2 separate regions of the Homo sapiens genome follow, and region 2 is linked to region 1. The links come from fine-mapping of genetic effects on gene expression. A gene starts in region 1. The other region holds a variant in brackets. All regions are shown on one strand. Distances are between the middles of the regions.

Region 1 (5,395 bases):
TTCTTCTCCCTCTGGCTTGCCCTTGAATTCTTTCCTGGGCAAAGCCAAGAACCCTGGCTGGCTTAGCCCCACTTCAGGGCTTGCCTGCCCTTCATCAGAATGACTCTTCTTAGAATTGCAGAATTAGAAGAGTACCTCTTTGAATAGTTAGGAAAGAAGCTTCTGGAAAATGTTGCACAGAACACTACAGTGTAAGTTGAAACTTACAGTGAAACTTTAAATGTAAAGAAGAAAAACAATATGTGTAGAGTGGCCATGGCTACACTAGTTTATGTAAATGTGAAAACATTCTTCTTGTAAAAATATGCAAGGTGATTTTATAATTATAGAGCAAATGTTTAGTTCAAGTGGCAACTACTCTTTGAAAGCTAATATTGCTTTCCCTGAAAATATTTTTCTGTTTTTTGAAATGTATAAAGTCTTGGACACTTTCTTGATTGTAAACTCTCTCCCACTGGGGCTGATTTGCTTTTTTTTTTTTTTTTTTTTTTTGAGACGGAGCCTTGCTCTGTTGCCCAGGCTGGAGTGCAGTGGTGCGATCTCAGCTCACTGCAAGCTCCGCCTCCTGGGTTCACGCCATTTTCCTGCCTCAGCCTCCCAAGTAGCTGGGACTACAGGCACCGGCCACCACGCCTGGTTAACTTTTTGTGTTCTTAGTAGAGACGGGGTTTCACCGTGTTAGCCAGGATGGTCTCAATCTCCTGACCTCGTGATCTGCCCTCCTTGGTCTCCCAAAGTGCTGGGATTACAGGCGTGAGTCACCGCGCCCAGTCTTTTATTTTTATTTATTTATTTATTTTGCCTTAGTGCAATGCATCTACGCCATGGTATACACTAAGAAGTGAAAGCTCAGATTGAAAGGCAACATTGATGAGTGCAACCCATTAAAAAAAAAAACAGATTTGAACAAAGTTGTTGAACTTTGGAAAAGAAAATGAGTGAATATCATCCGCAAGGTACTGAAGTGTGTCTGTAGTTTCAGCTATAACCCAGTCTGCAAATTCAGAGTCTCACATTCTATGTAGATCACATTTGTATAAGGTGGTAAGTTTTTTTAAATGTAGTCAGTACAAAGAATCCTTAAATTTATGTTTTGTCTTTTCAAATTTATTATTTATTATTTCATCTCTTAAGTGTTGCAATGCATAAGATAGTGTGCCAGGCTTTTTTTTTTAACCATTGGTTTTGTGATAATCAAACACCTGCCTAAATCTCTCCTCTTTGATTTTAATATTAACTAGAGCCATATGTTTATATACATAAAATTTACATGGAACATATTGTTCAATAGGGGTAGATCATATTTTAAAATATGTTTTTGTTTTATTTGTCCTAAGCTAATAACTGTAAAATAAGTGAAACAAAATACCTGACTTTAAGAAACTGCAATCCAAGACAATCAGAAGTCTTTTAAATTTAGCAATCATGATAAAAAGGCAACTGATTATTCCCTGTTCTGATTCTGGTAGTGGTTCTTTTTCAGGCTTCATAAGCATGAACTAATGATGAAACAATCTTGATACACAATCTATTAAGCTTAACTCCAACTGAATAAGTACTTTATCAAATCTGACATTTAATTGTACTATATCTCTGATTTAGTCAAAATTATAATGACATAATTCACATTTACTATTAATTTAACATATAGCCCCTGTGATTTATATTTATGTTACTATAATCAAAATGTTTTGTTGGTATTTACAGCCTAAGAAGATGAAAAGTACTTTATAAATATATTTTTAATTCAAATTTTAGATTACTTTATTGGAATAAAACAAAATATTTGCTGTTTACAAGATTATTTCTGTGTCATGAACATTATCTCCCTCCCAGCCATGTTTCTGGAATTACTGTCCTACCTGATTTAATCTTAGCTGTCACAATCAGACAGACAGAAAGTGTGGGACACTTTTCTTGCATCTGTAGTGGAAACTTTAACAGCATCCAGTAACTGCTGCAGGTCTGTCAGATAAATAAATACATGATTAATTGCATTTTTTTATTTATGCTTATACAAAAAGTAATATATGCCTTTAAACATTAATATGAATGCATGCAGGTCAGTAATAATTACAAATTAGTCCATTTATTCATATTTGGAAATGCTTGAATTTCCCAAGAATAAAAATTTAAAGTTAAAAAGGAATTTTTAGATCAGGTATTTCAACTGCTATTTTTAAGCTTAGTAAAACAAAAACAAAACAAAACAAAACTGATGCCCAAAGACTGTAAGCTTGGAGAGAAGTAGAGAAACGAATGAATCACAACTAGACTATCCTGACTCCTTCTCTTAGCTCTCCAAAGCATATTAATGAGATTCCTTGTTGTGATGAACAGAGATTCACCCACATTTAGAGAAAAGAAGTTTGTTTTAAAAATACTTATGGAATTTGAGTAGGAAAAGATAAATTACAGTTCTAAGTAAACATAGTAATATGTGTCACAATTTGAAGTGCTGTGAAGAGAATCATTAATCTAAACAGGACAGAATTTATGAGTTTCTTCACAATTAAATCAGGTGCAGTAAGAATTATAATAATTTTTCAATTGTATTCTGTCTTGAAGAGGAAGTGAATTGGATTATGGATTAAAACATAGGCCAGTGGATATTCATTAGGCTCCTGAAACCTAGCTGTACCTTGCATTAAACCTATAATTTTCTGAGTATAGGCAGATCATAATAAGCAAATCAATGCTAGATAAATAATGAAGTGTTCTTTTCCATCAACAATGACCTCATATTCTGGAATGAAAAAAAGAAAGACATAAGTAAATGAGATAGAGTAGAATAAATGGGTATGTGTGTGTCAGTGTGAGTGTGTGAGTGTGTTTGTGTATTACAAAAAAAGGAAGTAATAAACTATGTGGCAGATCAGGGAAGGTTTGCAAAAGTGGACACTTCAGTTGGGTCTGAAAATATAAGTAGGGATGACCCACACAGTGAGGTAGAAAAGGGTATTTTAGGCAGCAAGAATGACATGAACCAAATAGAAAGGTACAAGGCAGTAGGCACACAGGATAATGTGAGGTTAGGCTCTGTTGTGTTTTTGTTTGTTTGTTTTTTCTTTTTTAACTTTGATTTTAAGTTCTGGGATGCATGTGCAGGTGTGTTACATAGGTAAACTTATGTCATGGGGGTTTGTTTTACAGACTATTTCATCACCCAGGCATTAAGCCTACTACCCTTTAGTTATTTTTCCTGAACTTCTCCCTCCTCCTACCCTCCTCTCTCTGATGGGCCCAGGTGTGTGTAGTTCCCCTTTATGTGTCCATGTGTTCTCATCATTTAGCTCCCACTTATAAATGAGAACATGCAGTATTTGGTTTTCTGTTCTTGCATTAGTTTACTAAGGATAATGGCCTCCAGCTCCATCCATGTCCCAGCAAAAGACATGATCTCATTTTTTTATGGCTATGTACCATTCCATACTATATATGTACCACATTTTCTTCATCCAATCTACTGTTGGTGGACATTTAGGTTGATTCCATGCCTTTGTTATTGTGAATAGTGCTGCAATAAACATACACATGCATGTGTCTTCATAACAGAATGATTTATATTCCTTTGGGTATATACCCAATAATGGGATTGCTGGATCAAATGATATTTCTGTCTTTAGGTCTTTGAGGAATTGCTGCACTGTCTTCCACAATGTACTAATTTACACTCCCACCAGTAGTGTGTAAGCATTCCTTTTCTTCCACAACATCAACAGCATCTTTTTCTTTTTTCTTTTTGGACTCTTTAATAATAACCATTCTGACTGATGTGAGATGGTATCATTGTGGTTTTGATTTGTATTTCTCCAATGATGAATAATATTGGGCTTTTTAATCATATGATTGTGGGCCACATGTATATCTTCTCTTGAAAAGTGTCTGTTCATGTCCTTTGCTCATGTTCTGATGAGATTCCTTATTTTTTTCTTGTAAATTTGTTTAAGTTCCTTAAAGATGCTGAATATTAGACCTTTGTCAGATGCATAGTTTGCAAAAATTTTCTCCCATTCTGTAGGTTGTCTGTTTACTCTGTTGATAGTTTCTTTGTACTGTGCAGAAGCTCTGTAATTTAATAAGATCCCATTTGTCAATTTTTACTTCTATTGCAATTGCTGTTGGCATCTTCATCATAAAGTCTTTGCACATGCCTATGTCCTGAATAGTATTGCTTAGCTTGTCTTCCAGGGTTTTTATAGTTTTGGGTTTTACGGTTAAGTAATCCCTCTTGAGTTAATTTTTGCATACAGTATAAGGAAGGAGTTCAGTTTCAATCTTCTGCATATGGCTAGCCAGTTATCCCAGCACTGTTTATCTAATAGGGAATCCTTTCCTCATTGCTTGTTTTTGTCAGGTTTGTTGAAGATCAGATAGTTGTAGCATGCAGCCTTATTTTTGGGGTCTCCATTCTGTTCCATTGGTCTATGTGTCCTTCTGTACCAGTACCATGGTATTTTGTTTACTGTAGCCTTGGACTACAGCTTGAAGTTGAGTAGCATGATGTCTCCAGCTTGTTATTTTTGCTTAGAACTGCCTTGGCTATTCAGGCTCTTTTTTGATTCCATATGAATTTTAAAATAATATTTTCTAGTTCTTTGAAAAATCCCAATGGTAGTTTAATAGGAACAGCACTGAATCTATACATTTCTTTTAACAATATTGATTCTTCCTACTCAATAGCATGAAGTGTTTTTCCATTTGTTTGTGTCATCTCTGATTGCTCTGAGCAGTGTTTTGTAGTTCTCCTTGTAGAGGTCTTTCACCTTCCCTAGTTAGCTATATTCCTAGGTGTTTTATTCTTTTTGTAGCAATTGTGAATGGGAGTACGCTCCTGATTTGGCTCTCAGCTTTACTGTTGGTGTATAGGAATGCTAGTGATTTTTGCTTATTGATTTTGTATCTTGAGACTTTGTCGAGATTGTTTATCAGCTTAAGAAGCTATTGGGCTGAGGCTATGGGGTTTTGTAGATATAGGATCATGGCGTCTGCAAAAAGAGATAGTTTGATTTCCTATTTGGATGCCCTTTATTTCTTTCTTTTGCCTGATTGCCCTGGTCAGGAATTCCAAAACTATGTTGGTTTTTTTGTTTTGTTTTGTTTTGTTTTACTTTTTAACATTTATTTTAAGTTCAGGGGACATGTGCAGGTTTGTTACATAGGTAAACTTGTCATGGGGGTTTGTTGTACAGATTATTTCATCACCCAAGTATTAAGCTTGGTACTCCTTAGTTATTTTTCCTGATCCTCTGATACTGATCCTCCTCCCACTTTCTACCCTCCAAAAGGCCCTAGTGTGTGTTGTTCCCCTCTGTGTGTCCATATGTTCTTATTATTTAGCTGATAGGCTGGATAAAGAAAATGTGGTATTTCCTCAATACTATGTTGAATAGGG
Region 2 (5,395 bases), 31 kb after region 1:
TGACTATTTGCTCCTCAGCAATCTGAGAACCTGCTGTTCATTAGGCATCTCTTACAATTTCAGTCAAATTTCTTGTGGCCTCTTCAGTGTAGGGTCCCTCTTCAGTGTAGAGTCCCACATCTTTGTGCTTCTTGAGTCGTTTCGTAGCTTGTGTATCATGATTCCTTAAGAGTTTTAAGTTACCTGTTTTATATTTGCCAAAAGATATGGTTTAGATCCTTGCTGACTAGATTCCTAGGGCATAATTCTGGCTTTAATTGCAATTTCATGCAGTACATGGATGTAGATATTTGCTCTATATTGTACACACAGACCTCCTTCAAGGACTGAAAAATCTTAAGTCTCTAGGGGCAGTCTTGATTGTTGTAAGAGGGTGATGACCAGAGCTTGAATCAGTTGTATTATCAGAGAAAGAATGCTATAGCTTAAAGGAAAACATATATAATTGAGGTTTTTTTTTAATGATTTTATTGTTTAGGGTTTAGAAAGAGAATACTTGGCTGGGCACGGTGGCTCACACCTATAATCCCAGCACTTTGAGAGGCCAAGGTGGATGGATCACTTAAGGTCAGTAGTTCAAGACCAGCCTGGCCAACATAGTCAAACCCCATCTCTACTAAAAATACAAAAATTAGCCGGGCGTATTGGTGAGCCTGTAATCAATCCTAGCTACTTGGGAGGCTGAGGTGGAAGGATCGCTGGAACCCTGGAGGCAGAGGTTGCAGTGAGCTGAGATTGCGCCACTGCATTCCAGCCTGGGCAACAGAGCAAGACTCTGTCTAAAAAAAAAAAAAAAAAAAGAAAAAGAATACTTGATCATAATAGCACATAGAACATGTGTTTTATTAATTTATCAACTTTTAATTTGAGATTTAAAAATTTACCCTATAGCTAAACTGGTCTCCTAGGAATCCTGGATAACACTATACATTGTCAGTTATGTATTTTAATTAATAATAATAATAATATATTTTCCATTTTTTTCCTGAGGGAAAAAGCTTAAAAACAATTGCAGAGATACTTGTACAATTATATTAAGGTAGGGGCCAGCCCACTCCTAAATATCCAACCAACTTCCCTATAAAGTTAAAAGGCTTGGCAAGCCTTATGATTAGTCTGTGTTTGACACAGTTGTGGCCTTAATGATAAAAATTAGAAAATATCATATAGATTGTTTGGTTTTCATAAGTATTGTCTCCAACATTAAATATTAAGGCATTGGTATTTTGTAGACTGGAGAAAAACTATAGATGAATAGCATCAGTAATTACATAATGTCTTAATATTTGTAGGCAATAGACTATCAATCTCTGATGTGCTCACCTCTTACATTAGCTGTATAGCAATTGGTAGCTGATGACACTATACATTCTACTAATGCTTTCCTATGTGGAACTCTCCAAAGACTTGCAAAGGGAAAATTCAATTATATCCGAGTCTATGAAAATGCTAAAGGGCAAATAACTTTGACAAAGATAACTTATCACAGGCAAGTGTATTTACCAGGAGGTTTATAACTATTAAATTTTATCTTTGATGATGTCTAGCATCTTACCTGTAAAACAAGATATGAGACACTCTGAAGCTGCTCAATTTTAATACTTATCACACTGCAGTGACACTTCTCCTGGGTACTCTCTAGCCTAGGCTAATGCATGCTAGATGATAAGCTTGTTAAACAGAAAAATCTTTCCTTATATAGTTCCACAAAACTAATATCAACAGCTGATCTTTACATACCACCTACTATGTTCTAGACACTATTCTAGGTGCTTTGTATAAGTTAACCTACAATCTTCTAATGCTGCTAAGGAATTTTTATTAATATTAGTATTAATCTATGTTTTACAGATGAGGAAACTAAAGCACAATTATGAAGGAACTGAATTCCCAGGAATTTGCTGAAGTCTCACAGCTGATTAAATATCTGATCCCAGTCCACATAGACTGACATCTGTGTTCTTAACCGCTGTAAAATGCAATATGTGCTTCTTAGTAGTTCACCAAGCTTTGGTTGACCTAAGATAAATTATATAGTATTTCTTGTAATTAAATTGTACAGCTTCTGGATCCAGAACAATATTTGGAATTACCACATGGAGAAACCTTCCTTTCTTTCTGATTATTCTGCAGGAGGAGAAAGTATTCACTTTTTT[T/C]CCTCTGGAAATTATAAATTTCCCTTTACATGCTTATGAAAATCTTATTCTTGACTGGCAGTTTGTAGAATCAGTTCGATATATATATATCGTAAAGACCATTATATTAATATCATAACTTGCTTTCAAATGCCTCATAATTCAACTGTGCTTACTTTTTAATGTGCCTGAAAAAAGTGTTTAAAATGCATTAGATAGCACATTTCTTTAAAGGAATTGTATGATAAATTTCTTTGCAAAACAAGAATGTCTGACATCATACTATGAACTCATTTGTGGGACTGGATAGTCAAAATTACATTTCATTAAAATGAGATAATTATTTCATTAATTGACTACAAAACATATATAAACACAAAGTCATGTTTCTATTTGTTCATTGGTGTAAAGTACATTCTTCCATTGTAATAGACACACAATAATGGGTTATGGTATCTTTTCTCTCCTCCATTAATGAAATTCAGCCAAACTTGAAGTCAGTTCTGCTATAATCTCTATTAAATAAAATACATGTCTAACATATAGTGAAGAGCTGGAAGCACATTAATTTAGAACTTGGTGGTTGGATACTTTTTTTTTTAATTCTATAATTGCTTAGGACTATACACATATTAAGATAAATAAATTTATTATTCAGTGATTTTTGTTTAGTCTGGTTTAGTCTTCTCAACAAAGGCAACATTTAAAGATTCTAATTCATTTATGGTCTAGCAGCAGTTACGAGAGAAATAAATTTCATGTTTCTATTTACTATTATTTAATGTGAAAATCTTGGAAATTTTGTATTTTCCAGTGAATTAATAAAATGTTTTAAAATTCTACTTCTAGCATAGTGTGTTATGAAATGTGTACATCCTTGTAAAATAATAAAACAACATTTCAATAAATATCTATTTAGTGTCTGAAATATGACCAATGTTGCTTGTGAAATTTTACTTACAATATTTTATTCTTATATTTATTGAAATTTTATAATGCTAATGTTTCTACAGATCAGAATTGCACTTTCAAGGCCTTGCTTATATTCAATAAATGTAACATTTAAATTTTCACAGGTACCTTTACCTCCATATGCAGGTGCAGTTCTCAGGAATTCCACTTCGAAGCACATTACTACAAGACTGGCTATAAAAGATCCTTTAGCTTCTCACACCTGGGCATCTGCCTTATCCCCATTGCTTGTATTCTTGTATTGGTAACATTTTCAGACAGAACATTACGCTTTCTAAGAATACTGTCTACCTTGATTTTGGCAATCTTTCCTCTTCGATATAGTATAGCATAGTATAGTGCGGTACCAAAGAGAGAAGATTCTGGGATTGATCAGCCTGAATTCAAATTTAGAGAGTGGAATGATAATAGTAAAAAATGGAGACTAGCAAGGGGAATGGAGACTAAAGTGAAAGAGGATGGATGATAAAAAATTACTTAATGGGTACAATGTGTGTTATTCAGGTGATGGATACCTTAAAGCCTTGATTTGACTGCTCAGCAATCTATACATACAACAAAATTAGGCTGTACCACATAATTTTTTTGCCAAAAAAATTAATCTGCTTTACCACCAAGCATGCATGTGATCCAGGGCAAACCCCTCAGTCTCTCAATCTCTTGCATGCTCTATAGGCAAATGGTTTTTGGTCTGAGTGGCTGTCATATCTTCCAATATGAATTTCTGCATAAACGCATTTTTTCCTTCATGAGTTTGATTAACATTGGTTCTTAAAACGGAGGAATAATTTTTGTTACATTAAAATTTTGGTTTCATGAAAAATTATGATTATACATTTTGTAGCACATTACCATTTACCAAACTAAATGTTGGTTTGAATGTACCGTGCACCAAAGTTTTCCATCTCTTTCCTTTTAATTATTCTGTAACATCAGATTTATGTGGTCTAATTGTTGCACCTTTTTGTGCAAAACTATGTTTATAATCACTGAGTCAGTTTTTTCTTTCACTCATTTAAAATCTCTCATTCTTGTAGGTATACTCAAAAAAGATGTTATATACAAGAATGTTTATTGTGGTTTTATAAAAATAGCAAACAACTTTAATATTTACCAGTATGAAGCTGGTTGAATGCAATATTATAAATATATTCAGTTAAATACTCCTTAACTTTTTAAAATAGTGTGCTAATAATACTAAGGGATATCCAGGATATTGTAAATAAAAAAGCAGAACTCTAATCATTACACAAGGAGTGTCAAAACCATTAGCAGGGATTAATTCTGAGACTAGGCTCAGGATACTTTTAGTTTTCACTTCATGCCCCTACACCTTTTAATAAACAAGGTCAATTAAGTAGTTCTAATACAAAGCAGATTCATTATTTCAATTACATGTTCTTACAAATGATATTTTTCTTATTACAGACAGAGAAAAAATAAAATGTAAAGAATTGATTAAATTTACTGTTGCCAAGGATTATGGGCACTCCATTTCTTGTTAGTGAGCAATAAAGCTTATCCATTTTTAAACAGTAATTTGGCAATTTCTACGTCAATTTAAAATATGCATGACACTTGAACCTAGAAAGTTTATACCTCAAAATCTTGAAGAAATTCTTATAAGATTGCACAAACATATGCATGGAGTTATGCATACATTTTTCAAGGGCACTTTGTTTCTTAAAGGCTAGAATTTGGCTTTATCAATTATAAAAAAGAAAAATTTAAAATAGTCTAAAGTTCAGTTAAAGAGCTCAGATTAGGTAAATTATAGCACATAATATGACAAATACAATGTGAGAAAACAGCTAACAATACACCTGGTAGATTTGAACACAATACCCTAGAATAAAGTCTGCAATACAGTGCCATGTGAAGAAAGCAAATGGAACCCAGCTTAGTAGAAACAATTAAGGAATAGGTATGTATTGAAAATGCTATGGAATTGTATTAAAATAAAGGCATGACTGACTCTGAGGCCTGATACGACATGGATAAGTATGTTAACTTTCCACCAAAATATTATTGAATGTCTTCCAGTGAGTTCCTTGCATTGCTTTAAAATTAAAAGTGTTTTTGACACACAACATTTTTTTCTCCCTGTGTCTGTATTTCCATCATCATCACCCTGTCCTATATCTAGTCACCCTGATCTGGGTTATAGGAGCAAATAATCTGGAGTTAAAGAACTCTAGGTTAACCTTATCTATATACCCTTCTGAGACTTGACATGTCTTGTTAAGTTGTTGGTCAGTTTTTGCTTGACCTCTTCCATTGAAATCTCA

Which allele goes with the higher level. Positions count from the first base shown, and alleles are read on the strand shown. Sizes are in standard deviations (SD) of each study's normalised expression.
For the expression in sigmoid colon of the gene that starts at base 3,105 in region 1, C is the high allele of the variant in region 2 and T is the other (moderate effect, 0.43 SD a copy in GTEx).

The links. PIP is the estimated chance that this variant, and not a neighbour inherited with it, causes the effect. A credible set is the group of variants that fine-mapping cannot tell apart.
Region 2: its variant is the best candidate, but not a certain one, in a credible set for the expression of LRFN5-DT in sigmoid colon (GTEx, PIP 0.67).

Annotation. Positions count from the first base shown.
Region 1 is chr14:41,591,048-41,596,442 of GRCh38, reverse strand. It overlaps LRFN5-DT (LRFN5 divergent transcript), which reads left to right and starts at 3,105. Exons shown (of 2, transcript XR_001750740.3): 1 at 3,105-5,395. It overlaps LOC124900349 (small nucleolar RNA SNORA31), which reads right to left and starts at 1,981; the gene lies at 1,852-1,981.
Region 2 is chr14:41,559,846-41,565,240 of GRCh38, reverse strand. No RefSeq gene overlaps it. Among named protein-coding and RNA genes, the nearest start is that of LRFN5-DT, 31 kb to the left of the region's middle. The variant T/C (reference allele first, on the strand shown) is at 2,157.